Regions from separate parts of the Homo sapiens genome. Here all the other regions are linked to region 1. The links come from fine-mapping of genetic effects on gene expression. A gene starts in region 1. Each other region holds a variant in brackets. All regions are shown on one strand. Distances are between the middles of the regions.

What was found. PIP is the estimated chance that this variant, and not a neighbour inherited with it, causes the effect.
Region 2: its variant is fine-mapped to the expression of TM9SF2 in whole blood (TOPMed, PIP 0.98).
Region 3: its variant is fine-mapped to the expression of TM9SF2 in whole blood (TOPMed, PIP 0.98).
Region 4: its variant is fine-mapped to the expression of TM9SF2 in whole blood (TOPMed, PIP above 0.99).

The regions. Positions count from the first base shown.
Region 1 is chr13:99,498,370-99,504,508 of GRCh38, forward strand. It overlaps TM9SF2 (transmembrane 9 superfamily member 2), which reads left to right and starts at 3,103. Exons shown (of 17, transcript NM_004800.3): 1 at 3,103-3,408. The coding sequence starts at 3,238. LINC01232 (long intergenic non-protein coding RNA 1232) reads right to left here and starts at 937. Exons shown (of 5, transcript NR_110731.1): 1 at 317-937. LINC00449 (long intergenic non-protein coding RNA 449) reads right to left here and starts at 2,694. Exons shown (of 2, transcript NR_133664.1): 1 at 2,026-2,694; 2 at 1,354-1,571. RefSeq lists enhancers at 191-400, 411-530, 2,809-2,988, 2,895-3,483.
Region 2 is chr13:99,429,951-99,436,089 of GRCh38, forward strand. LNCARGI (lncRNA antiviral response interferon signaling inducer) reads right to left here and starts at 2,800. Exons shown (of 2, transcript NR_197585.1): 1 at 2,437-2,800. RefSeq lists enhancers at 1,927-2,106, 2,117-2,196, 2,440-3,639, 2,647-3,376. The variant T/C (reference allele first, on the strand shown) is at 2,929.
Region 3 is chr13:99,540,937-99,547,075 of GRCh38, forward strand. TM9SF2 (transmembrane 9 superfamily member 2) reads left to right here. Exons shown (of 17, transcript NM_004800.3): 9 at 623-731; 10 at 2,927-3,059; 11 at 6,049-6,139. Among named protein-coding and RNA genes, the nearest start is that of LINC01039, 33 kb to the right of the region's middle. RefSeq lists a silencer at 1,895-1,964 and enhancers at 2,315-2,374, 5,342-5,491. The variant C/A (reference allele first, on the strand shown) is at 3,418.
Region 4 is chr13:99,473,230-99,479,368 of GRCh38, forward strand. No RefSeq gene overlaps it. Among named protein-coding and RNA genes, the nearest start is that of LINC01232, 23 kb to the right of the region's middle. The variant G/A (reference allele first, on the strand shown) is at 2,688.

The DNA of each region.
Region 1 (6,139 bases):
GTCACGATCATGGGGAGAATGAAGGAAAAACTCCATTTCTTTCCAGTTTGCAACTGGAATTGTCACTTTCGTCTTTCGGCACGACAGCGCCCAGGCCACAAAAGCCCACAGGGCAGGGCCTCCATTTTGTGGCCTGCGTGGAGGGCGGGGCGGTCTCTCTCCGCCACGCCCCAGCACCGGGTAGACACCGCAGCCACGTAACCAAGGAACCCCGAATGAGGCGTTGGCCAGGTGAGGCCGGATCCGGAAGTAGGGGGACCACTTCGCCCCGCGTACGAGCCCCGCCCCCGGCCCCTCCCACCAGACCCAGGCCGACCTAGATGACGTGTCCGAGTAGGAGTTGGCGAGGTGCGGCCGGGCGGCCGGCCCTGCGCATGCGTGATACTTGCACCGGTCGAGATGGTAGCATGAGTCTGGAGGTCATTTTCTTTGAGAAAGGCTCCGCTTCTCCGGGTTTTTGCTGATGCCGATCCCGGGGGATTGAGGAAACATTGAGCTCTGGAGTGGAAAAGGTTGCAGACTTTTAGACTCCCAAGTCGTTGTAGTCTCAATCTCTAGTGGCTGCGTTACTGCAGGAAGTCACGGAAGCCTCTCCCCTTTCTTAGGCGCATCCTTGGCTGTAAAAGGAGGTTAAAAGCCCCTGGAAAACCTCAGGTTTATTTCAGCTCTGAAAGTCCGGTTCCAAATTTAGATCCAGCACTCTTGTGGCCTGGCCAGTGATGGTCGTGGAGTGCTTTCCCCGCGCCTGCGGTCTCTAGGCTCTGTGGATGTAGAGGTGTGGGATGTAGGAGCAGGCCCTTACCCGTGGAATTCACATATAAATGGGGGAATGAGACAGCAAACAAACAAACGTGATCCTTCCTGATAGTGGTAAATGTGGGATGCCGAGGTTTAAGCAGACGAGTGGTATTAAGGGATTTCAAGGTTTTATAAAATTGATTTTGCCAAGAGTGGAAGCTGAGAGGCTACTGCAGTAAGAAGTCCAGGGGAACTAAGAATTTGGCTTGGACCAGAGTGGTAGCTGTGGGCATGGAAAGTACTGAAAGGATTTAGCCCATAGTTTAGCAGCCCAACCAACGGGACCTGCTGAAGGACTGGAGGTAGGTAGTGAGGAAATGAGAAATTTAGGTTCTTCTCCAGGGTTGGGGCCTGAAAAGAGATGGGCAGCGATGCCGTTTCCTGGAAAACTGGGAGAGGAAATGTTTGGGATGAGGGCAGTGAGATATAATGAAGGTCAAGTTTTTTTTTTGTTTTTTTTTTTTTTTTTTTGAGACGGAGTCGTGCTCAGTCGCCCAGGCTGGAGTGCAGTGGCGCGATCTCGGCTTACCGCAAGCTCCGCCTCCCGGGTTCACGCCATTCTCCTGCCTCAGCCTCCCAAGTAGCTGGGACTACAGGAGCCCGCCACCACGCTCGGCTAATTTTTTTGTATTTTTAGTAGAGACGGGGTTTCACCGTGTTAGCCAGGATGGTCTCGATCTTCTGACCTCGTGATCCGCCCATCTCGGCCTCCCAAAGTGCTGGGATTACAGGCGTGAGCCACCGCGCCGGCCGAAGGTCAAGTTTCAGTGGTGCTAGGAAAAGAAGATAGTGAGCAAAAATGTTAATTTTTGTTTCCTCCTCTTAATATTTGGAGAAAACGTCTGCTTCCTTTTGTTATATTGGAAATCTCCATGACTTCCAAATACAGAATATTTTACAATTTTTCCCTATCCCAAAGTTCAGCGAATATGTTGATTTATTTGAGGGAGAGGACATGAAAGGGAAGCCACCTAGGCACAATTTTCTGCTCAGGCCCTACCAGATTAGTTTTTGTTATCAAAAAAAAAAAAAAAAGTGCCATTCCTTGGGCCAAGCTATGTGCTCAGCACTTTCCCTCCATTTTTGATTTAATCTTCACAACAACCTTAAGATGAACGTTCTTTTCTACTTCCCAGTTCTCTTGATTAACTTGGCTACCCCACTATATGGATCAATTTGCAGGGTCCTAGGTCCCTTTGAAAATCTGATGAAAGTTATAAACCTTACCTGGGAAAAAAGTACAAACACCCGCAAGAACTTGAAATAGGAGTTCACTGGCCCTCAACTTTCTGAGCTTACTATTTCACAAACCTGCCTATTCTTGAATTCTGAGCTGGAGGTCATGATTCTCTCTTATGTACTTTAAGATGATGCACTCTTCCGAAGTTTTTGATTGAACTCTAGTGGCTAACTGAATTGACTTTTTCAGATCACTAAAAAGCTTCTCCTTGAAAAATACTCAGAAGATGCAACACACACACACACACACGTGTGTGCACTTACACACGCGGACACCGTCTCACATCATCAGTGGGAAAAGTGATAGAATCTTGCTAAAGGCTGATCATACCATATTAATCCGATTCGCCAGAACTACTTTCTTCACTGAGCTCTCAGGTATGCTCGGGTCTTCCTTTAAAGAAAATAAATGTCAACGCTACACTCTATCCTACTCCCATTTTCCTCCTCACCCCATTTCCACTCTCCCTTAAAGAGATGTGTGCACACAATCACTGCCCAATGCAAGAATGCACCACTGCATCCAATGCTTGGAAATTGTCCGTGAAGATGCCTTTGAGTAGCTGTCTATTTGAGGATTTGTGGCTAATTCCTCCCCATTTGTTTCCTTAGCCTGCTCCCAACCAGGTGTCTCCAGAACTTTTTCTCTCCGCCACCAACTCCGCCTCCAGACAGACCGCAGGTGCTTTCTGTCATAGGGACTGGCGTGCCGCGGACAGTGTGACAAAGAAACTGTATGATGGATATGAGAACTTCGTAAGACCCAGCAGCAAACGGGGAGCGGCTGGCGAGCGCTCCACAGCCCCCAAGCGTGGGAGCTCTAGATCGGAATTTGTAATTTGGAATTGGAACGTGAGCGCCGGAACAGCTCTCCCAGCAACCACCTCTCCCAGCAACCACCTCAGCTGGCGCGCGGAAAACCCGGAAAGTGGATTTCGCCCCCGCTCCCTCCCGGAAACTCCTCCTGGTGCCTGCGACCGTTCTCACTGAGCATGTGCAGACGGCGGTGCGCATGCTCTGTTGCGGTCCGCTTCGGTTTCTGTTGCGGGACCCGGGGTGTCTCCTAGCGCAACCGGAACTAGCCTTCTGGGGGCCGGCTTCCTTTATCTCTGGCGGCCTTGTAGTCGTCTCCGAGACTCCCCACCCCTCCTTCCCTCTTGACCCCCTAGGTTTGATTGCCCTTTCCCCGAAACAACTATCATGAGCGCGAGGCTGCCGGTGTTGTCTCCACCTCGGTGGCCGCGGCTGTTGCTGCTGTCGCTGCTCCTGCTGGGGGCGGTTCCTGGCCCGCGCCGGAGCGGCGCTTTCTACCTGCCCGGCCTGGCGCCCGTCAACTTCTGCGACGAAGAAAAAAAGAGCGACGAGTGCAAGGTGGGTGAGGCCTGACGAGCCCTCTGATGCACTGTTGGAAGGGGAAGTCGTCCCTATCCGGGGGAGCTGATCCTCGGGTGGGAGCGAGGGAAGGGGGCGTAGCAGCGGGTGGGGTTGAGTTTCCCCAGAAGCTTTTGGGGTCTGCTGGGCTGTGGGTGGGGGGCTCTGAAACAGCCCTTGCAAGGGTAGTTTCTGGAGGACGCAGTGGGCCTCAGACTCGCCTCCCGTCTTGCGGGCCAAGTGGCACGAGCAGCTGTATTCAGTTTTCCTGGAACAGGGACCGTGTGGAGCGCCCTTGGAGTTGGGCTTCACGCCTCAGAGCTTTGGAGTTGGATGTATGCAGGTCCACGCGTGAGTGTTCGCTCACAGCCCTGTAACATGTACGCTGAGGAAGCGGGTGACCGACTCCCTACATGTGAGCAACACTCAGCCTAGTTAACAGTTTCCATTAGCTTTTAACTTCATTGCTTCCTGTTTAATTGCATTTTCCTGGAACCTTCTAGTTGGTTAGGAGAGCTTGTTCTTTCTAGGACTTTGATATCTCGCTTCACAATTAGAAGTTGGTTCCTTATTTGTGGAGTATAACACCCAGAGCCACACAAAGTGCATTAATAAAGAGTTGCTGTAATGGTTGAGGCACTTGATTTCTGAGTTTTAAGTGTAAAAGATTTTAATACACAAAAAAAGATACGAGGTCTCACTATTTTCTCTGAGATGGTTTTAAACACTTAAAAGGGGCAAATGGTGGGAGAAACTGGTGTTTTCCTAGGGCAAGTCTTGAAAACTTTGATCTCTTACAACATTCACACTCAAGGTTTTCAGTTTAATTGCTAGTAAAAGAGGCGTAAATAAAGTAACCTGCTTTTAGGTTATATGGTGTAGGGCTTTACAGTATACATACACAATTATTTCGTTAAGTTTATTTAAAACTTAACATTTGGGGGATGAGGATCTCTTTGAAACCTTTAATGATTTCAACAATTCAAATAATCGTTCAACAAACGTTTACAATCTATAAATAGGCTTATTTATTAAGTTTGATTTTTTTAAGCTGGTGTTTATTACAGTTAGCTTTACTATAGCTGTGAATTTTGAGGTTATTTTAGGGCATTAGATAAGCTTTAAATTTTTCATAACATTTTGCAGTTTCTTTTTAGGTTGTCAGCTATCTTGAATGACATGTTTATACATCTGTGCAAAACCTTGTATCTGAAAAAATATCTAAGGATATTTAAGGTTTACTCAAGTCTGCAGTTAGTGTTTCAGTACTTAAGTTCATACTCTGCAGTGCAAGAAGCTTTCACTCCTTTTTGAGGATTCTGACTGAAAGACTGTTGTTGTGCTTCCAAGTGGAAGATCTAGACTTGCAAGTACACTGGTTTTTCCATTAAATATTTTAGTAACCAACCTTTAAGGCCTAGTGTTTGGTCTTACTTTAACAGCAGTTGTATATTCTATTCCTAGTGCCTCAAAGATGAAAAATATATTTCCTGCCCTCTGGGAACCTCAAAGTAAGGGACATAAGCTTATGAACAGATTATTGAAATCTGATCTGTTACACAGGATGATGTCCAAAGTGTGCTAAAACAAAATGAGGAAACATCAGTGGACTAGAGTCTTTAGGGAAAGCTCTATAGAAGAAGTGACAGGGCCAGGTGTGGTGGCTCACGCCTGTAATCCCAACACATTGGGAGGCCGAGGCGGGTGGATCACCTGAAGTCAGGAGTTTAAGACCAGCCTGGCCAATATGGTGAAACCGCGTCTCTACTAAAAATACAAAAATTAGCTGGGCGTGGTGGCGGGCATCTGTAATCCCAGCTACTCGGGAGGCTGAGGCAGGAAGAATCGCTTGAACTCTGGAGGTGGAGGTTGCAGTGAGCTGAGATCGCGCCATTGCACTCCAGCCTGGGCAACAGAGCGAGACTTTGTCTCAAAAAAAAAAAAAAAAAAAAAAAGAAGAAGAAGTGACATTTGAGATGGACTTAGAAAATGAATAAGTGAAACTTATAGGTGGTCTTCCAGTTAGATGATTGTTTTCTCAACAGGTCCTTTGGTAAGTGGCTAGGTTGTATTCTAGTTATTTTTTAGTTAATCTTGGGAGTCATTTTGGATGTTTAATTTTCATAGGTATAGGGATAAAACAGGCAGAGCAGATCATTTTTCCGAAATGTTTGGATTTTTATCTTTATTGCCAGCTACACTCACATCTGGTTAATGGAAACAACTCTTAGAAGAGCAGGAGGGTGTACTTTCAGCTTTTTTCCTGCGATATGACTAACTGGTGTAGAGAATTTGAAATACACTTTAATATTTATTTTCTTTGCCTTTCAAAGAAGATGCTATAAATAACAGTAAACAGTTGAAATTTGTATTACTTCAATCAGGATGTTAATAATTTATTCTCATCTATTTCGTATTTGTTAAGGAGGACAGTCTTGTACACATTATTCAGAAAAGTGGAAGGAACTTCTTTTAAAAATTAGAAATGAGAGTTGTGAAATGGAAATAATTTTTTCCAAAAGATGCTGTTAAGTTAGTGAATCTGAAGTTGGAGAAATTGGGCAGGTCATTGATACTGTTACCAACAGTTTTTCCATCTGTAAAATAGGGATAATCATATTTGATTATGACATATTCCCCTTGAAAGGTATTTTGCATTTCTTAGAGGAAAAGTGCAATATTTGTCATTGTTGTGATAGTGTAGAGATGAAACAAATATATCTTCAACTTA
Region 2 (6,139 bases), 68 kb before region 1:
TTTGAAAAATCATTGATGTTTGTATTGTGGTAAAATACATATAATGTAAAATTTACCATTTAAACATGATTACATAGCATTAAATACATTCACATTGTTGTGTAACCATCACCACCATCCATCTCCAGAACTTTATCTTCCTCCCAAACAGAAACTCTGTACCCACGAAACACTGACTCCCCATTTCCCCTCCCCCAGCCCCTGGCACCCCCCATTCTACTTTCTAAGAATTTGATGACTCTAGGGACCTCATACAAGAGGATTCATATAGTGTTTATCCTTTCATGATTGGCTTATTTCACTTGGCATAACATCCTCAAGGGTCATCCTGTTGTAGAATATGTCAGGATTTCCCTCTTTTTGAAGGCCGAATCATATTCTGATGTAAGCATATATCACGTTTTCTTTATCCATCCATCTGTTGATGAACACTTGGGTTGCGTCCACCTTTCAGCTAAGGTGAATAATGCTGCCGTGAACATGATTGTGTAAATCTCTCTTCAAGTCCCTGCTTTCAATTCTTTTAGATACATACCCAGAAGTGGAATTGCCAGGTCCTAAGGTGATTCTAGACTTAATTTTCTGAGGAGCCACCATAGTGTTTTCCATAGAGGCCGCACTGTTTTACATTCGCACGAACAGCGCACAGGGGTTCTGATTTCTGCCCCTCCTCACCAACACTTGTGATTTTGTTTTGACAATAGCCATCCTAACGGATGTGAGAGCCATTGATTTTTGTATGGCAATCTTGTATCCAACCATGTCACCAAGCTCTCAGATTAGGTTTTCATTTGATGTCTTGGATTTTCTAGGCATATTGTCACATCATCTGGAATGGTGACAATTTTGGTTTTGTTCACTTTAGTATTCGTGCCCGTTTTTCTGACTTTACTACATTGACAATGACCCACATTACAAGGTTGGAGAGAAGCAGTGATGGCAGGCACCCCTGTTCTCTTAGATTTCGCTGTTATATGTCTTAATCTCTGAGAGTCTCTGTAGCCACCCTTACCAAGTTAGGAATGAGGTGTTCTGAGCCTGGATTGCTAGGAGTTTCATCAACAATATTCACATTCGCCAAATGCTTTTTGGGGTGTCTATTGAGATGCCTGTACGACTCAGTGCAGTGAATTACATTATCAATTCCCTAATGATTCCTCCTGCTTGCGTTTGTCAGAAAAACCTGTTTGTCATAAACTACTCGTGTCCCACCCAGCGTCCCGATGAGATAAGGACTCCACAGGGACTCTGGGCTGCCCTAGGTTGCCCCAAATGAACAGGTGTCCAGTGATTGCAGAAAAAGAGGAGATGGTGATAGATATGGATCATGTCTTTGCCCCCAAAGAGGGCACATCCGTGGGAAAAAAGTCCCAAAGGAGCAAGATTCTTCAAAGAACCGTTGACCCTGTTGTAACAAGATGGAGAAAATTGTATTCATCAAAACTAACCTTGAGGAGAGGTCTGGATGCATTCAGGAGAAGTCCGTTGATTAATAGCTTGAAATGATTGAGCTGACTACCCAAGGAGACCCTCGTGTTGGGCTGAGAACCTGAAGGCTGGGCTGAGCGAGCCAGGACAGGAGCTTGGACAGAGCCTCCTTGTCTGTGGAGTGATGGGAGAGGAAGCAAAGAAGGAAGGCACAAAGCCAGAAAGCACAGCAGTAGTTGGGAAAAAGGAGAAAAAGAAAAGATGCGGCCGGGCGCGGTGGCTCACGCCTGTAATCCCAGCACTTTGGGAGGCCGAGGCGGGCGGATCACAAGGTCAGGAGATCGAGACCATCCTGGCTAACACGGTGAAACCCTGTCTCTACTAAAAATACAAAAAATTAGCCGGGCGTAGTGGCGGGCGCCTGTAGTCCCAGCTACTCAGGAGGCGGAGGCAGGAGAATGGTGTGAACCTGGGAGGCGGAGCTTGCAGTGAGCTGAGATCGCACCACTGCACTCCAGCCTGGGCGACAGAGCGAGACTCCGTCTCAAAAAAAAAAAAAAAAAAAAGAAAGAAAAGAAAAGATGCAAACCCTGGCATTGAGGCCCCCCCAAAGCCACCAAGGAGGGCCCCTGGGAGAGCGCGAACTCTGCTCCGGCTGCGGGTGGTTGCTGTGGTCTGTGCCTGTCACTCCCTGCTTGCTGAGGCTTTCGTGCCTCGGGTCCACTGGGGAGCAGGAGAAAGTGCCCAGTTCTGTCTGTAGAGAGGACGTCACTCAGGGAGAGGGGCAGGAGCTGAGGGCACGTGACTTACACCAAGGCTAAGGTGCAACGCGAAGGCCCTGACACCTGAGCCCCTGGGAGTTGAAAGGTGACAGGCTAACTTGGGGGATGAGCGGTAGAGTCCGGAGGTTCTAAATGGAGCACAAGTGGACCCTCGAGCGACCTGAGAATACAACCCAGAGGGCTCATGAACTGACATGGGAAAACAATGACATCTGTTTTCACTCACCTCTGGTTGAAACTGAGCAGTTCCTTGTATTATGAACATAGGTGGCAACCACTTAGTGTTAGCCAGCAGAAATAACGGGAAGTTTCATTCCACACTTTCGTTGTTGCCAGTATCTCAAAATGTTATTCAGGCTCATTGCTATTTCAAAATCCCATGGTCAGAGACCCATCCTCCCGGGTATCAGAAAGCATGGGAGCCCTGACCCTGACGGCCACCAGGCTGCAGGCAGAGGGGCATGGCCCACTTGGACCTGAGGGTGTGTCATTCAATCCAGCAAACATTCATTGAGCACATTCTCTGTGCTGGCCACCAGGTCCAAAGATGAACAAGGCCGAGACCCCGCCAGGAGGAACTCAGGGAATGCGACAGGCACAGATGAGCAAGACAATAGTGACAACGCAGCATGATTCATGCTGAGAGTGCCGGGGAGGGCGGGAGGCCAGGCAGGGTTTCTCACGGGAAGTCACATTTGAACTGGCTTTCTCACACTTG[T/C]GAAAGTGCGCCCAAGGACGCAGGACTTTCCTGAACCAGAAAAATCCCTGCTCGCGAGTGTGCACATCTCCGCTTAGAGTGCAGAGGAGCAAACAGCAGAAACTTCCCCCGGCTGTGGAGCCGAAACAGGAAACCACCCAGGAGCCCTGTGCAGAAGCGGCCGGGGATTCCCAGTTCCCCAGGACCCAGTGGGCGTTTTCACAGGAAGCCTCTCTGGGTGAAGCCCCTGCTGTACCCGTCCCGCTAGGGATGGAGGCTCCATGAGGTCACAGGTTGTTTTCTGTTTCGTTGGCTAATGAATCTCAAGCATCTATGCCTGGCACGGATTTGCTTTCTACAAATATGTGTTAAATGAATGAAGAAACACAACTGGATCCTTCCAAAATTGACAGGGGCCCAGCACAGTGTCTCATACCTGTAATCCCAGGACTTTGGGAGGCCGAGGCAGGAGGACTGCTTGAGGCCAGGAGTTTGAGACCAGCCTGGACATTGTATTGAGACCCTGTCTTGACAAAGAAATTGTTTTTAATTAGCTGGGCATGGTGATGCACATCTGTAGTCCCAGCTACTCTGGAGGCTGAAGTAGGAGGATCACCTGAGCCCAGAAGCGCAAGGCTGTAGTGAGCAGTGATTGCACCACTGCACTCTAGCCTGGGCAATAGAGTGAGACCCTGTCTAATTTTTTAAAAAATGCTGGGGGCAGCTGGATAAGGCAGGCCGTGGCTCTGTCTCTGTGTGTGGCACTTGTATCTCCAAATCGCCATGGTGCCCTGCATGTAGGTGACCTAGGAAGACACCTCCTCCAGGTCCAGCAGATGTGGAACTGTTTCATGCCATTGAGCAGGTGGAGTGCTGTTGAGGTATGGCTTACTCTGCCCTCTCCCGGGACCACAGGGTGCGCTCTCGCGGGGGTCTGGAGAATCCTAGCAGGTGTCTGAGCTGCCTGGATTAGGGATCTCTTTCCTCAGAGTGTGATCTGAGCTGGAAGGATGGGTTCCAGGCTAGTGGGGGAGGGCTGGGACTATCTTCTCTGGGAGCCTCCATCTTTGGCTCACAGTGGGTGGGCACAGGCACCTCACAAGGCCTGACAGAGGCCAGTCCCCGATCAGTGTAGGGAGAGCAGAGCATTGGAAACCATTGACCAACTTCACCTCCATCACTTCCAGCGAAGTCAGGGGCATACTGCACCCCCACATATTTGTAGGTTGAAGTCCTAACCTCCAGTACCTCAGAATGGGACTGTATTTGGAGACAGGATCTTTAAAGAGGTGATTATGATTAAAAAAGGTCCCATGACTCGTGTCCCTACAAGAAGAGGTGATTAGAACACAGACGCACACAGAGGGAAGACCACGTGAAGCCCCTGGTGGAAGACACTGTGGAGAGGCTCAGGGGAAAGCAGCCCTGCCCGCACCTTGAACCAGGTCCTCCCAGCTTCCAGACGGCGAGGAAATACATTTCTGTCGTCAGAGGCCCCAAGTCTGCTACGGTGGCCTGAGTCTGTTACTGCAGCCCTGAGTCTGTTACAGCGGCCCCGGAGACCCGGCCGAGTCTTCTCACTCAATGAACTTCTTCAATGGGCTCCTCAAGGTGACACCCACATTGTCACCACAAAGAAGAAATAAACAGAGCTGCCCTCCAGAGTCATAGGTCAGAAAGGCCTCGTGACTCAGGAGTGGGTTATCTGGGTGACCTTACTGCTCACTCAGTAAGAAAAACAGCCTTTCAGGCCTGCACTTCCCAGCAGCATAGCCTGCTCCTTCCTGGCTGATGTCAGAGGGCCCGAGTTCCGATAAGCCGCTGTTTGCTAACGTAGGTCTACACAGGTATAACCGCGGGCCCTGAGTCAGGTGAAAGGCCTGATGTCTGCGGGAAGCTTAGTGGGTTTTTATGTGAAAAAAGAAAAGTCTTACGCCATTGGCTGTCTTTCAGCAGGGCTGTTAGAAACGCACCTGGCTCAACAGCACCAAGAGGATGATGAAAGTAAGTCCAGTCTGGGAGTTCCGTGAGGGATTGGCAGCCAGTCTTCACATTTTAAATACATTTTACTTATTAACTGGAAATGCCTTGGGGAACTCTGGCAAGCATGCAGGGACCCCATTCTCTCCACCCCTCTCAGCTCACTGTTTCTTCATTGCTGGGCCTGTCTCTGCCTCCAGCTGGGCTCCACTTTTTTTATTTTTATTTTTATTTTTATTTTGAGACAGGGTCTCAATCTGTTGCCCAGGCTGGAGTGCAGTGGCAGGACCATGGTTCACTGCAGCCTCAACCTCCTGGGCTCAAGCCCAGCTCAGTCACTGGGACAACAGGTGCGCGCCACCATGTGGGCTCCAGTTTAACACGTCCAAACCTCCCTGTACCTTTGGGAAAGTCCAGGCAATTTCTTGGTTTCCCAAATAAGAGTCACTGACGGCCAAAACTCCTTTATCCTTCCCATTGGGGCATTTCCCCTACCATGGTCCACACTGCCTGCCTGACATTGTTAATGAATCCTTCGTGGGCCTAAGCCTGGCAGAGCAGGGCAGGTAGGGATTCCGGAGGTGCAGGTTTTGCTCTTACCTGGCAGAGTAGCTTCCCATTCTGGGCTTCAGTTTGCTCCTCTGCAGGATGAGGATCATAATAACAGCTCCTCAGAGGTCCTTTGTGAATATTAAGGGAGTCACATGTGTATAAACTGTGTCTGGGGTACAATAAATGCTAAAGGTCCCTTCCCTTCCATCCCTTTCCTCCCCCTTGATGGCAGGACTGTGGCTCCGCCTCCTGTCTCCCCTCCTCACCAAGCGCAGTGCTATGCACACACTGAGATCTGAATACAAACGTGCTGATGAATGGATTCCCTGACCTCAGCATGCACCCCATCGTGTATCACTCACCTGTATCTGCCTCAGCTGGGACTGGCTTTGATGAATGTGAATCTTTAAACTATAATAATTCATGCTCTTGTAGAAAGCATGGCACATGTTTGCAAACACAAAGAAGAAAATAAATATAGTCAAGACCACAGAGTCTGTGTTCCTCAACTGCCTTGAGCTCTCCATGATAATTGTCCCAGAGCATTTTAGAGTAACCGCTTGGCTTCTCAAGGCTCCAAGAAAAAGAATTTCTTTATAGCAGAGCTACATTTAATAGCTTTTTATCTTACAACAGATGAAGTACCTGTATATACCAGGTCCTGTCTCACACTTCTGCCCTGTGAACAATAAAAATCTCC
Region 3 (6,139 bases), 43 kb after region 1:
GAGTCACAGCAGGTCCCTTAATTTCTCAGCGTCTGTTTCTTTATCTAGAAATACCCACCTTATGGGATTGTTGTGAGGATTAAAGGACATCATGGGACAGAATATTTGAGGACATTGTCTGGCACATAAGAGTGTTCAGAAACAGAAGCCGCTGTTGTTGCTATGACTTTATTATTATCCCCTTCAAACATGATTCAAAACTTTTATCTAGAGTTGTTCATGTTGCCATAACTCTCCTTTTCCTATTGCTGTCTGATCTTTTTGACACTCACTAATTTACTGAGTAAAGTTGTTCTTCAGTAAATTTCTTGAGGGCACAAGCCAGTCCTTTGTTGTGGCAGTGATTTGGGCACAGTAGTTATTTCATAATATTGACCATGTACCAAAAAATTCTAGTTCTAAACAGACTATGAAACTGTATTATGATAAGTATATAATGTTATTTATCTACTGGAGGGAAACATGAAAGAACACAGTTCATTGAATTTGTTGGATTTCAGATAGCTTTCATTTTGATTTTGATCAAGACTGTTTTAATGTTACTCAATAAACAGTTTTTAAAAGAGTTTTACTGTTCCTAGGATTAAGCTACAGATTACTCATGATGTGCTTATTTCTACAGCATTATGAATTCCCTGGTCATTGTTCTCTTCTTATCTGGAATGGTAGCTATGATTATGTTACGGACACTGCACAAAGATATTGCTAGATATAATCAGATGGACTCTACGGTAAGTGGAAACATTTTAGTCTTTAGTCTGCCAAGGACACTGTTTATTGTTATTTTGCAAAAAGGTAAAATAATAGCTTTAGAATCTGCTTTTAAAACATTCTTCAAAAAACAAAAACAAAAACAAAAAAATTCTTCTCAAAAGTTATCTTGAATTCACATTTTCAAATAAGAAAGTGATACTTAAGAATTAATATTCTTGGCTGGGCGCGGTGGCTCACACCTGTAATCCCAGCACTTTGGGAGGCCGGGGTGGGCGGATCACCTGAGGTCAGGAGTTCAAGACCAGCCTGACCAACATGGTGAAACCCCATCTCTCCTAAAAACACAAAAATTAGCTGGGTGTGGTGGTGGGGACCTGTAGCCCCAGCTACCTCGGGAGGCTGAGGCAGGAGAATTGCTTGAACCCAGGAGGCGGAGGCTGCAGTGAGCCAAGATCGTGCCACTGCACTCCAGCCTGGCAACAGAGCAAGACTCTGTCTCAAAAAAAAAAAAAAAAAATAGAAATGGAGTCAGCACAGCCTTGGGAGCTGACCTGTTCACAGCCTCCTGTGTGGGAATGGACTGGTGCAGCGTGGGGTGTAGGTGCACAGTTACAACTCTGTAAGGTTTCTCCATCCCTGACACATACCTGTTTGTGAAACCACAAAGTTGAATGGAATAACTCCTAAGCAATTTTTATTTGTGTGGTTAATTTTTTAAAATTAATCTTAACAAATTTGTATCATTTCAACCTTTTGATATATTTAAAATAATTGCATGTTCCAGCCTCTTTAGTCTCAAACTTTTTAAGTTGCACAGTGTTACACATTTTCTACTCTTCATTTCATGGCAGCATAATAAAAGAATTTTCACAAGAATCACAGTAATTTGGAATGAATGCAAAAAACTCAGGTTTTTATTGTATTCTCTTCCCCCAGCTTCTTCAGCCTCCTGTCCCCCAACCTCTCTGACCTGTTCTGATTGGGGAAAATATATATGAATATTCATAAGCTTTTAACGTTTGTACTCTATAGTCTCTTTCCTATGATTTTTATTGATTTTATGTCTTATTAAATATTAAAATGATTTTAAAATACTCTGTTTATAATTGGCTGTTCCACATAATTGCTGTTAATGGAGTTTTATCTTAATTTGCACAGCGTTGCCATGTGGAACCAGGCCAGTGGTGACTCTGCTTCCACAACCCTGTCCTACTTCCCATCTCTTAGCACAGCAGTCAGAGTGAAACTGCTCAAACAGAAGTCAGATCATTTCACTCTTGAGCACGGCCCTCCAGGGACTTCTGTTCAGTCAGAGCAAGAGTCAGAGGCTTTACAGTGGCTTCTAAGGCCCCACGTTACCTCAGCACTCTGCTGCACCTGTGCCGGCTACCTTGCTGTTCCTCAGACCAGGCAGACATAGGTTTCCACCTCAGAGCCTTCACGAAGCTCACTGTTTTATCTGCTAAGAAGGTCTGCCCCTCATTTACATGGCTAGTTCCCTTACCTCCCTCCGATCTTTACAAAATGTGATCTTCCCATTGAACCCCTCCCAGCCATCACATATGTTACATCCTGTCCTGCACACACCCATACATCCTGTTTTTCTGTACAGCGCTTATTACCATCTAATGTACAGTATACTTTCCTGACTTATTTTGTTTATTGTCTGCCTTCCCAATGAGATCATGTACTCCTGAGAGTAGGAATTTTTCTGTTACACTCACTGTGGTATCTGGTGTTTTAAACAGAGCCGAGCTTATAGTTGGTGCTCAATGAATGTTTACATCCATGCTTACTGTATTAGCAAAGTAGCTAGAATATGAGAGCTAATGCCATTTGCTTATTGTGGAGATCATTAAGAGTAGGATGAAGAGGATAGAATGTGACTAAAAATCGTCATCAAGTCAGATCACAAAGCTTGACTTAGAGTAGAATTAGGTAGCAATCACATTGTCTTTGTAAAGTTTCTCAATAAGTATATTTGTAGACCTTAATGTCATAAATTTAAGAAACTGACATATAAGACAGTTCAGCAAAGCCATATTAAGCTCCATGAGTCAAGCTGTATTCTTCAAAATTGAAATAGGTACTAACATTTTTAAGTTTAAAAAAAACCTGTTTTCTGTAACAGCATATTCAACAGTGAACAAACTGTCTATAGTTGTCTTGTTGATACCATGAGACAATCGAACTGATTTCATTCCCCTTTTAGGAAGATGCCCAGGAAGAATTTGGCTGGAAACTTGTTCATGGTGATATATTCCGTCCTCCAAGAAAAGGGATGCTGCTATCAGTCTTTCTAGGATCCGGGACACAGATTTTAATTATGACCTTTGTGACTCTATGTAAGTGTTAACTGAAAATTTTCAAGTAGAAAATACTTTCTAAATACAGTAATTGCTTAAAAACCAGTTTTTCTGGCCGGGCATGGTGGCTCATGCCTGTAATCCTAGCACTTTGGGAGGCCAAGGCGGGTGGATGACAAGGTCAGGAGTTTGAGACCAGACTGGCCAATATAGTGAAACCCCGTCTTTCTACTAAAAATACAAAAACTGGGCATGGTGGCAGGTGCCTGTAATCCCAGCTACTTGTGGGGCTGAGGCAGTAGCTTGAACCTGGGAGGCGGAGGTTGTAGTGAACTGAGATTGCGCCACTGCACTCCAGCCTGGGTGACAGTGCAAGACTCCATCTCAAAAAAAAAAA[C/A]AAAAAACACCACAGTTTTTCTAAGTGGGTAGGTAAGCCAGATTATTTCTGAGCATCCTTTAGGTTCTCAAAATCTAAGTGACTTGGGGCAGGTTTAGTTGCACCCAAAGACTGACTCTTGGTTTCTCCCTTCAGCTCTTCCTAGACCAAGCCTTTGTCAGGGAGGCACTGGGCTGGAGATGAACAGGTCCTTAAGACCATCAGCATCTGAGTCTAAACAGCCCAGAACTGGGACCATTTAGGGTCTCTTTTACCCAGGCATCGTGGGCAGGCACAGTCTGGTTAGGGTTCCAGGATATTCTTGGCTTCCACGGAGGGAGGAGGGTGGGAAAAGAAGGGATGGGGCAGGAAGCACTGTGTAGATCCTTCTCATCTGGGGAGGATTTGGGAAGCAGGATCTCTCTCCTCTAGGGAAAGCGAGTGTGTAGGAAAGACCTTCCTTCCTCCATAAAAAGATTCTCTTCTTTGAGCTACCTCAGCGACTTCAGAAATTGTATTTAAATTTTTGCCAACTAGGACAATTTTTTTTTTTAAATAAATGTTCCTTAGAGGTATTGATAGCCACAGGGATTGTTCTGAAACTACCTCTGGGTATATGTTAATTCCACTGTCTTCCAGTTTCCTTAATTGGAAGATAAAAAAGGTTTATGAATAGAATTTTCTAAATTTTACCTTTATTTAATGTATTTTACTTTATTGATGCCTGCTACTGATAAATAGCAACAAATGAATATACTGGGAGAATTCAGAAACTAACCTTTAATAATTTTTTAGTAAACATTTATTTTTTATGTTTGATTACATATTAAATACATAATACCACAGTTATTTTTGTTAGTAAAGTTGTTCCAAATTTTTATGATAAAATTAATTATATAAATGCTTTGCAAAGAGCAGTATCATTTTCAAATGTCTGGCACTGAATAAGTTTGGGAACCAAACTCACACCTTCAGGTTCAGTTTGAAGACTGACTAGGATATCTTTTTTTTTTAATCTACTAACAACTTAAGGAGATACAATTTTGATAGGTAGAGCTAGAATTTGTAACTATATCATACTAAAGAGAAGTTAAGTCATACTAAAGAGAATAGGTCAGGAAAAGGTGTCATAAAAAAGGTTTGGACAGAGGGTGGTAGGGTGAAGGCACTGGGTGACAGAGAGCCAAACTAGACTTAGAGCAGAATGAATGTTTGAAGATAAACTTCTGCTTTCTTTCTTTCTTTTTTTTTTTGAGACGGAGCCTCGCTCTGTCACCAGGCTGGAGTTCAGTGGCGTGATCTTGGCTTACTGAAACCTCCACCTCCTAGGTCCAAGTGATTCTTCTGCCTCAGCCTCCTGAGTAGCTGGGATTACAGGCGCCTGCCACCACGCCTGGCTGATTTTTGTATTTTTGGTAGAGACACGGTTTCACCATGTTGTCCAGGATGGTCTCAATCTCTCAACCTCGTGATCCGCCCGCCTCGGCCTCCCAAAGTGCTGGGGTTACAGGCGTGAGCTACCACACCCAGCCAACTCCTGCTTTCAAATCTTATTAGGAGCTGTCTTCTGCGATGCTCTGGTTTTTATTGCGGTCAGCTAGAAAAGTGAACTTTTAAGGAAGGAAAGTTTCAGAGAGTCTAGGATAGAATACGATGGGAATAATTTTCCTTAAGTCCTCAAATAGGAACTTTCTGCCGAAGGGCAGTCCATTTTTCAGGTCGAGGAGGAGAAAGGGGTTGCATTTTAGCTGAAATCTTGTACATCTTCTAAAGCTACCCTGATGTGTTTCCTGCTCATCATGACTCTGGTGCTTGTCAGAGGTGTGTGCGCGTGCTTGCTCACATACGTGCTTGGTCATGCACGTTTTAGGGGAAACAATAGGGGGGGAAACAATGGGGATTTTCTTGCTGAGCCTCCTGAAACTCAGTTCTCAGCAGTATCCTACTCACCTTGGGATTCTGAGCACCTTATAACTTCTGAGCCCCAGCTTAAAGCTGGGAATTTCTATGAATATAATATAGCATTTTAATTCTCATTAGTAGGAAGGCTTACATAGGGAAGAGCAAACAAAGCTAACCACGTGAATAAGGTAGGGCCAGGGTTTCCCCGTATTGCTGACAAGGTCCTTCCGTAATTTGTGAAAAGCTAATGGCCGTATGAAATCTTTCTCCCTCATTTTGTTCTTTCATTAGATTATATATGTCTCTTCTGTTTGAATGTTGTAAGGTTTTGGGTTTTTTTTTTTTTACCCCCAGAGGACCCCCATATTTTTTAATGAAAGAACAGTGGGAATATTTTGTAGTGGAAACATTTTCACTTATGTCAATTTTAAAGGCTGTACTTGAATCTCAGAAGAGTCAAATGCACTCTTGAGCATCCAGTCAGCCTCCCCTGATCACAGGAAGGATGTGATCTCTCATTCTGGACTCTGAGAAGAAACTTCCAAAGTGAAGTTTGCCTCATGTATGATCAGATTGGTGCAGTACAGTAAATATTACTAAGATTGTGTAGAGCTGCATGGTAGGAGAGCACATGGTTTTGCGTGAAGTTGTATTTTTTTCTTGTTTGAAAAATGAGAGGGTTTCTCTATCATTTCACAGCAAAGGAAACAGAGTAATAACATGTACAGCCTTTCACGATTTGTGTTTTAGTTTTCGCTTGCCTGGGATTTTTGTCACCTGCCAACCGAGGAGCGCTGATGACGTGTGCTGTGGTCCTGTGGGTGCTGCTGGGCACCCCTGC
Region 4 (6,139 bases), 25 kb before region 1:
AAAATTCCATCCTGAAAAAAACAAAACAAACAAACAAACAAAAAAAAGAATTATTTGATTTTATTTTAGGTTCCAGAACTAATAATGGGAGTCGAGGCCAAATCTTTAAGAGGTTACAAATGCCTGTTAATGGCTTTAGTGATATCTTTGTGCTGTGTGGTGTCATTCTCAAAGGCAGACAATTGCTCTACCAAATTGCCAACTTGAAGCATAGTGTCTGATAACAACTGTGGATTTTTGAAAAACAGCATTGCCCTGTGGGATGCCTGTGGCCTCACTTACTGCTGGTAGTCATGGCAGGAATGGATGCGGGAGGCTGGGATCCCCCAGCGTGGCTGGGAGTGTTGACTGCCATCTTCCCTTAGGGGTGTGCATCTGAGGTCCATGCTGCTCCTCAGAATCTCAGAATTCTGTCGTGGGTGCTGCAAAAACTGACTAAGGAGGCCAAATGCACTTGGTTTACATTCTTCTCTCTAGATCTTTGGATAAAACAATTTAAAAATTTCGCCCAGTGTAACTTTGTTTATTTTTGTGAAGCAAAATCAAATAAGCCAAGTGCCATTGGAACTCCTGGCAGCTTCCTAATACTTAATACTTGATGAAAGTCCTGCAAGACAATCCAGACTTGATGAGGACGGGAAGCCGATATTTAGTCGATGATGGCATCATCACGTCGATGTTTTTTTCATTTCCTAAGGAATGCTGGCTGCACACCAAGAAATGAAAGTTGTTGGTTAATGGATGCTAATGGGAAACCTAATGAGGCAGTGGAGGCCAGCACTTTTCACGCTATGGCCCATGGCAAAGCAGAAGATTGATGGAGAGATGAGAGCACTGCCAGTTCTTCTATAAGTAAAAGAAACATCTCATCCAAAAGATGTTTCTCCAGTAATGGGGTGAAGCTCCTTTACCCACAGAAGGCTGAACCAGTATGAAACAAGGCCAGGCATCACTCAAGTTAGTCCAATAGCAAAATGCATTTACATACGTAAATAAATATATATATTACCTTTCTATACGACGACATCTCTCTTTTTTTTTTTTTGAGATGGAGTTTTGCTCTTGTTGCCTAGGCTGGAGTGCAATGGTGCGATCTTGGCTCATCGCAACCTCTGCCTCCTGGGTTCAAGCGATTCTCCTGCCTCAGCCTCCCAAGTAGCTGGGATTACAGGCATGCGCCACCATGCCCAGCTAATTTTGTATTTTTAGTAGAGATGGGGTTTCTCCATGTTTGTCAGGCTGGTATTGAACTCCCAACCTTAGGTGATCCGCCTGCCTTGGCCTCCCAAAGTGCTGGGATTGCAGGCATGGGCCACCACGCCCGGCCGATGACATCTCTTTACAAAGAAAACGTGTGTTCATTATTTCTAAAAATAGAAATATTACATAGTCAAAAGGGGGGAATCACCTTTATTCAACTATCACCTTTATTCAACTGCAAAGAAATAACCCACTGTTGGTATTTTCACGTGTGTCTTTCCATTCTTTTTTGTTTAAATATATATGTATATTTTAAAAAATCTTCCTGTGAATTTTAAGATATGTATAGATTTGTGTGGCCCCCACCAAAATCAGACTATCCAACAGTTCTATCACCCCCTCAAAATCCCCTCTTATATACCTCGATAGTCACACCTCCCTCCCTTGAATCTCTGCATCTACTGATCTGTTTTCAGTCACTGTGGTGTTAGGTTTTTGAAATGTCGTATAAATAGAGTCATAGAGAATGTAACCTCCTAAGACTCAGTGTGTATGACATTAATCCGTGGTGTTGTATGTATCAATAGTTCATTCCTTTTTATTGCTAAGTACTATTCCATTGTATGACTGTTCCCATGGTTTGTTTATTCATTTACTGGTTGAAAGGCATTTGTGTTGTTTCCAATTTTGGTGATTGTGAATAAAGCTGCTATAAGTAGTTACACACAAATTTTCGTGTGAGCATAAGCTTTCATTTCTCTAGGGTTTAAATACCTAGGAGTGGGATTAATGGGTCATATGGTAAGTGTATGTTTAACTTTGTAGGAAACTGTCAAACTTCCCGCCTAAGCAACAGAGCAAGACCCAGTCTGATATAGTTTGGATGTTGTCCCTATCCAAATCTCATGTTGAAATGTAATCCCCAGTGTTGGAGATGGGGCTTGGTGGGAGGTGATTGGATCATGGGTGCAGATTTCTCATGAATGGTTAAATATCATTCTCTTGGTACTGTCCTCGCGAGATGTGGTTGTTTAAAAGTGTGTAAAAGGAAAATATCTTGGGGCCCCAAAAATCACTAAGTTAAAAGGAAAAGTCAAGCTGGGAACTGCTTAGGGCAAACCTGTCTCCCGTTCTATTCAGTCACCCCTCTGCTCACTGAGATAAATGCATATCTGATTACCTTCTTTGGAGAGGCTAACCAGAAACCCAAAAGAATGGAACCATTTGTCTCTTATCTACCTATGACCTGGACGCCCCCTCCCCACTTTGAGTTGTCCCGTCTTTCTGGACTGAACCAACGTTCACCTTACATACGTTGATTGATGTCTCATGTCTCCCTAAAATGTATAAAAGCATACTGTGCTCTGAGCATTTTGGCCACATGTCATCAGGACCTCCTGAGGCTGTGTCACAAGTGTGTGTCCTCAATGTTGGCAAAATAAACTTTCTAATTTAACTGAGACCTGTCTCAAATTTTCTGGGTTCAA[G/A]TTTTGGTAACCATGAAGGGATTCTGAGCGGAGGTGCCCCTGACCTTTGACAAATCTATTGGTGCTTGGAACCAGCATGAGCTAATTTTATGGCTCAAGCCAATAGGACAATTTGCTGAGGTCTGGGAGAACCCCCTCCAGAGAATCCCTGATCTCCCAAAATTTGGTCAAGATCTAAAGTTTATTTTGCTGTACAACTCCCTTTTTCTTTTGAGTTTTACTTGCTTCCAACAAGGAAGGCAAGTTTTTCCTGCTTCCATGACAACGGAAGGCAGGTAACTCCTTTATGGAGTTTGAGCTCACTTCCAACAAGAAGGATGAGGGTTTTTTCCTGCTTTTAGGGTGATAGAGAGCAGTCTTCAGCCTGAGACCCATCCCTAGGTAAGTAACTGAATTGGGGTTTGTCTTGGCTAAAGTTAAGATTAACAACCAGCTTGTCTTAATTTCTCCTCACCACTAGAGCGCTCAATAGTTGTATAAGTTGTGCGATCATTTGTTTTGCTTAACTGCGTTTTTTGTTGTTGTCGTTTGTTTCTGTTCTTGTTGTTGTTTCAGTCTTTTTCCCACTGGGTTTGATCAACTCTATCCGGCTTGATCAAATCCAAAGGAAAGTTCCAAATTATGGGGAACAAGGCCTCTGAAGTGGCTAAATTCCACCCCGCCACCCCCCCCCCACACACACACAAAAGGTGGTATGGTGGGGGAGAAAAACGGCCGGAAAAGGAAACCAAAAAAAAAGAGGAAAGATTTTTCATTTTGACTACTAAGGGACTTTATTTACATAACAAGGCCACCTTTTTGCTAGCGAGGCCCAACCAAGAGAGCAATGGCTGTACTTCTGAAATAGCAGCAATTTGTCCTAGCTGAAATATGGTGATGAGATCTTAAAAGATTTTTTTTAAAGGAGCTCAATGATGAAAAGTCAGCTTAATTAAAAGCTAACATTCAAGAAGTGTGTGTGTATGTGTGCGTGTGTGTATGTATGCATGTGTGTGTGCATATGTGTATGTGTGCATGTGTGTGCATGTGTGTGTACGTGTGTGTATGTGTGTGTGCATGTGTGTGTATGTGTGCATGTGTGTGCATGTGTGCGTGTGTGTATGTGTGTGCATGTGTGCGTGTGTGCATGTGTGCGTGTGTGTATGTGTGCGTGTGTGTGTGTGTGCGTGTGTGTATGTGTGCGTGTGTGTATGTGTGCGTGTGTGTATGTGTGCGTGTGTGTATGTGTGTGCGTGTATGTGTGCGTGCGTGTGTGTATGTGTGCGTGTGTGTATGTGTGCGTGGGTGTATGTGTGCGTGTGTGTATGTGTGCGTGTGTGTATGTGTGCGTGCATGTGTGTATGTGTGCATGTGTGCGTGTGTGTGTATGTGTGCGTGTGTGTGTATGTGTGCGTGTGTGTGTACGTGTGCGTGTGTGTATGTGTGCATGTGGGTGTGTGTGTGCATGTGTGTGTATGTGTGCGTGTGTGTGTGCGTGTGTGTATGTGTGCGTGTGTGTGTATGTGTGCATGTGTGTGTGTTTGTATTTAAAAGGCCTTCATATTTTTGCTTTTGTTTTTCCCCTAGGATCTTGTCTTTTTTTTCAGCAAAAGTTTTTTTCTTCTCAGTTGACCGAATTCTGTTTTCTTCATTTACTTCTGCTGTGTCTTCTTTCTCTTGCACTCTCTGTAGCATGGGTAACCTAAAATAGTTTATAATAGCCTGGGGTTCCTTAAAGAAAACTGAGAAGGCGCCAGACTCCCTCTGAGGGAGAAACCTGTTTTTCCTTATGGAACCCCAAGAATGTAAACAGACAAGTTCATCTCAGCTCTTAAACGGCTTACTTTTGTATTGTGTTACCTGGTGTGTTTTTCAACTAAAATAGTTATTGCAACAGAGGTTACTCTCGGGTTTTTAAGGAAGAGTGTGGTTTAGACACTTAGAAATATGTTTGTTAAAAAAAAGTTTTTTTCTTTAAGTGCACTGTAAGAGCATCACATGGTCTAGCCTCATAATAATTCTCCCTTTTTGGAGACCGAGATTCAATTTCATACCTATCCCTACCAGATACTACAAAGCATCAAAATTTGGCATAGGGGTTACAAAACTATAAACCCAACCCAAAACAGAATGATCTTTGCTTGTGTAGTCTTTAATAAATAAGACATTGATATTGGTTTAATAAAAATAGCTACATCTCAAATTTAGTAAGATTACCATAACTTCTAATCTTATGGCTTTAGGTGGTCTAGTCCACAGCCAGTAAGGTTTGTTATCATCTTTGTTTCAAGCTAAAATATAAACTAAGTTCCTCCCAAAGTTAGTTTGGCCTATGCCCAGGAATGAACAAGGACACCTTGGAGGTTAAAAGCAAAATGGAGTCAGTTAGGTCAAATCTTTTCACGTCTCAGTTACAATTTTGCAATGGCGGTTCCATAGCTTTAAATGATGACTATCACAGTTTTCATAAATAATCTAGGTAAACAATTAAAATGAAATAATTAGGTAAATGTAATAGGATAAATACTTGTAGACAAACTCATAATTTAGAATCTAAAGTTATATTAAACTAAATGATAAATATTTCATTATTTGGGTATTTTCCAATAAAAATATATTTATAGGAAAACATTATTTCTAAAAAAAAAAAAAAAAATCTGTCCTTTTAAAAAAGGTGAACTTAGCTGGGCACGGTGGGTCACGCCTGTAATCCCAGTACTTTGGGAGGCCGAGGCGGGTGGATCATGAGGTCAGGAGAGCGAGACCATCCTGGCTAACACGGTGAAACCCTGTCTCTACCAAAAATACAAAAAATTAGCCGAGCATGGTGGCAGGCACCTGTAGTCCCAGCTACTCGGGAGGCTGAGGCAGGAGAGTGGCATGAACCCAGGAGGCGGAGCTCACAGTGAGCTGAGATTACGCCACTGCACTCTAGCCTGGGGGACAGAGCGAGACTCCATCTCAAAAAAAAAAAAAAAATGGTGAACAGTGGCCGGGCGCAGTGGCTCATGCCTATAATCCCAGCACTTTGGGAGGCCGAGGTGGGCAGATCAGCTGAGGTCAGGAGTTCAAGACCTGCCTGGCCAACATGGCAAAACCTTGTCTCTACCAAAAATACAAAAAATTGGCTGGGCATGGTGGCGGGTGCCTGTAATCCCAGCTACTCGGGAGGCTGAGGCAGGAGAATCACTTGAACCTGGGAGGTGGAGGTTTCAGTGAGGAGAGATTGTGCCATTACACTCCAGCCTGGGTGACAAGAGCGAAACTCTGTCTCAAAAAAAAAAACATTTGAACAATTTTTTGTCTAATTCAAAGCTTATTTAAAGGTCATGTATAAAACAAGGTAAAAGGAACCAGGAAATAAGAGAGATGTAAAGAAAGTTATAAAAATAATGAGGGTTTTTTTTGGTAAGAAACTTAAAGAGAAATAATTTCATATGAGAAAGAATCTTGTATGATAAATTTAGTCCTAG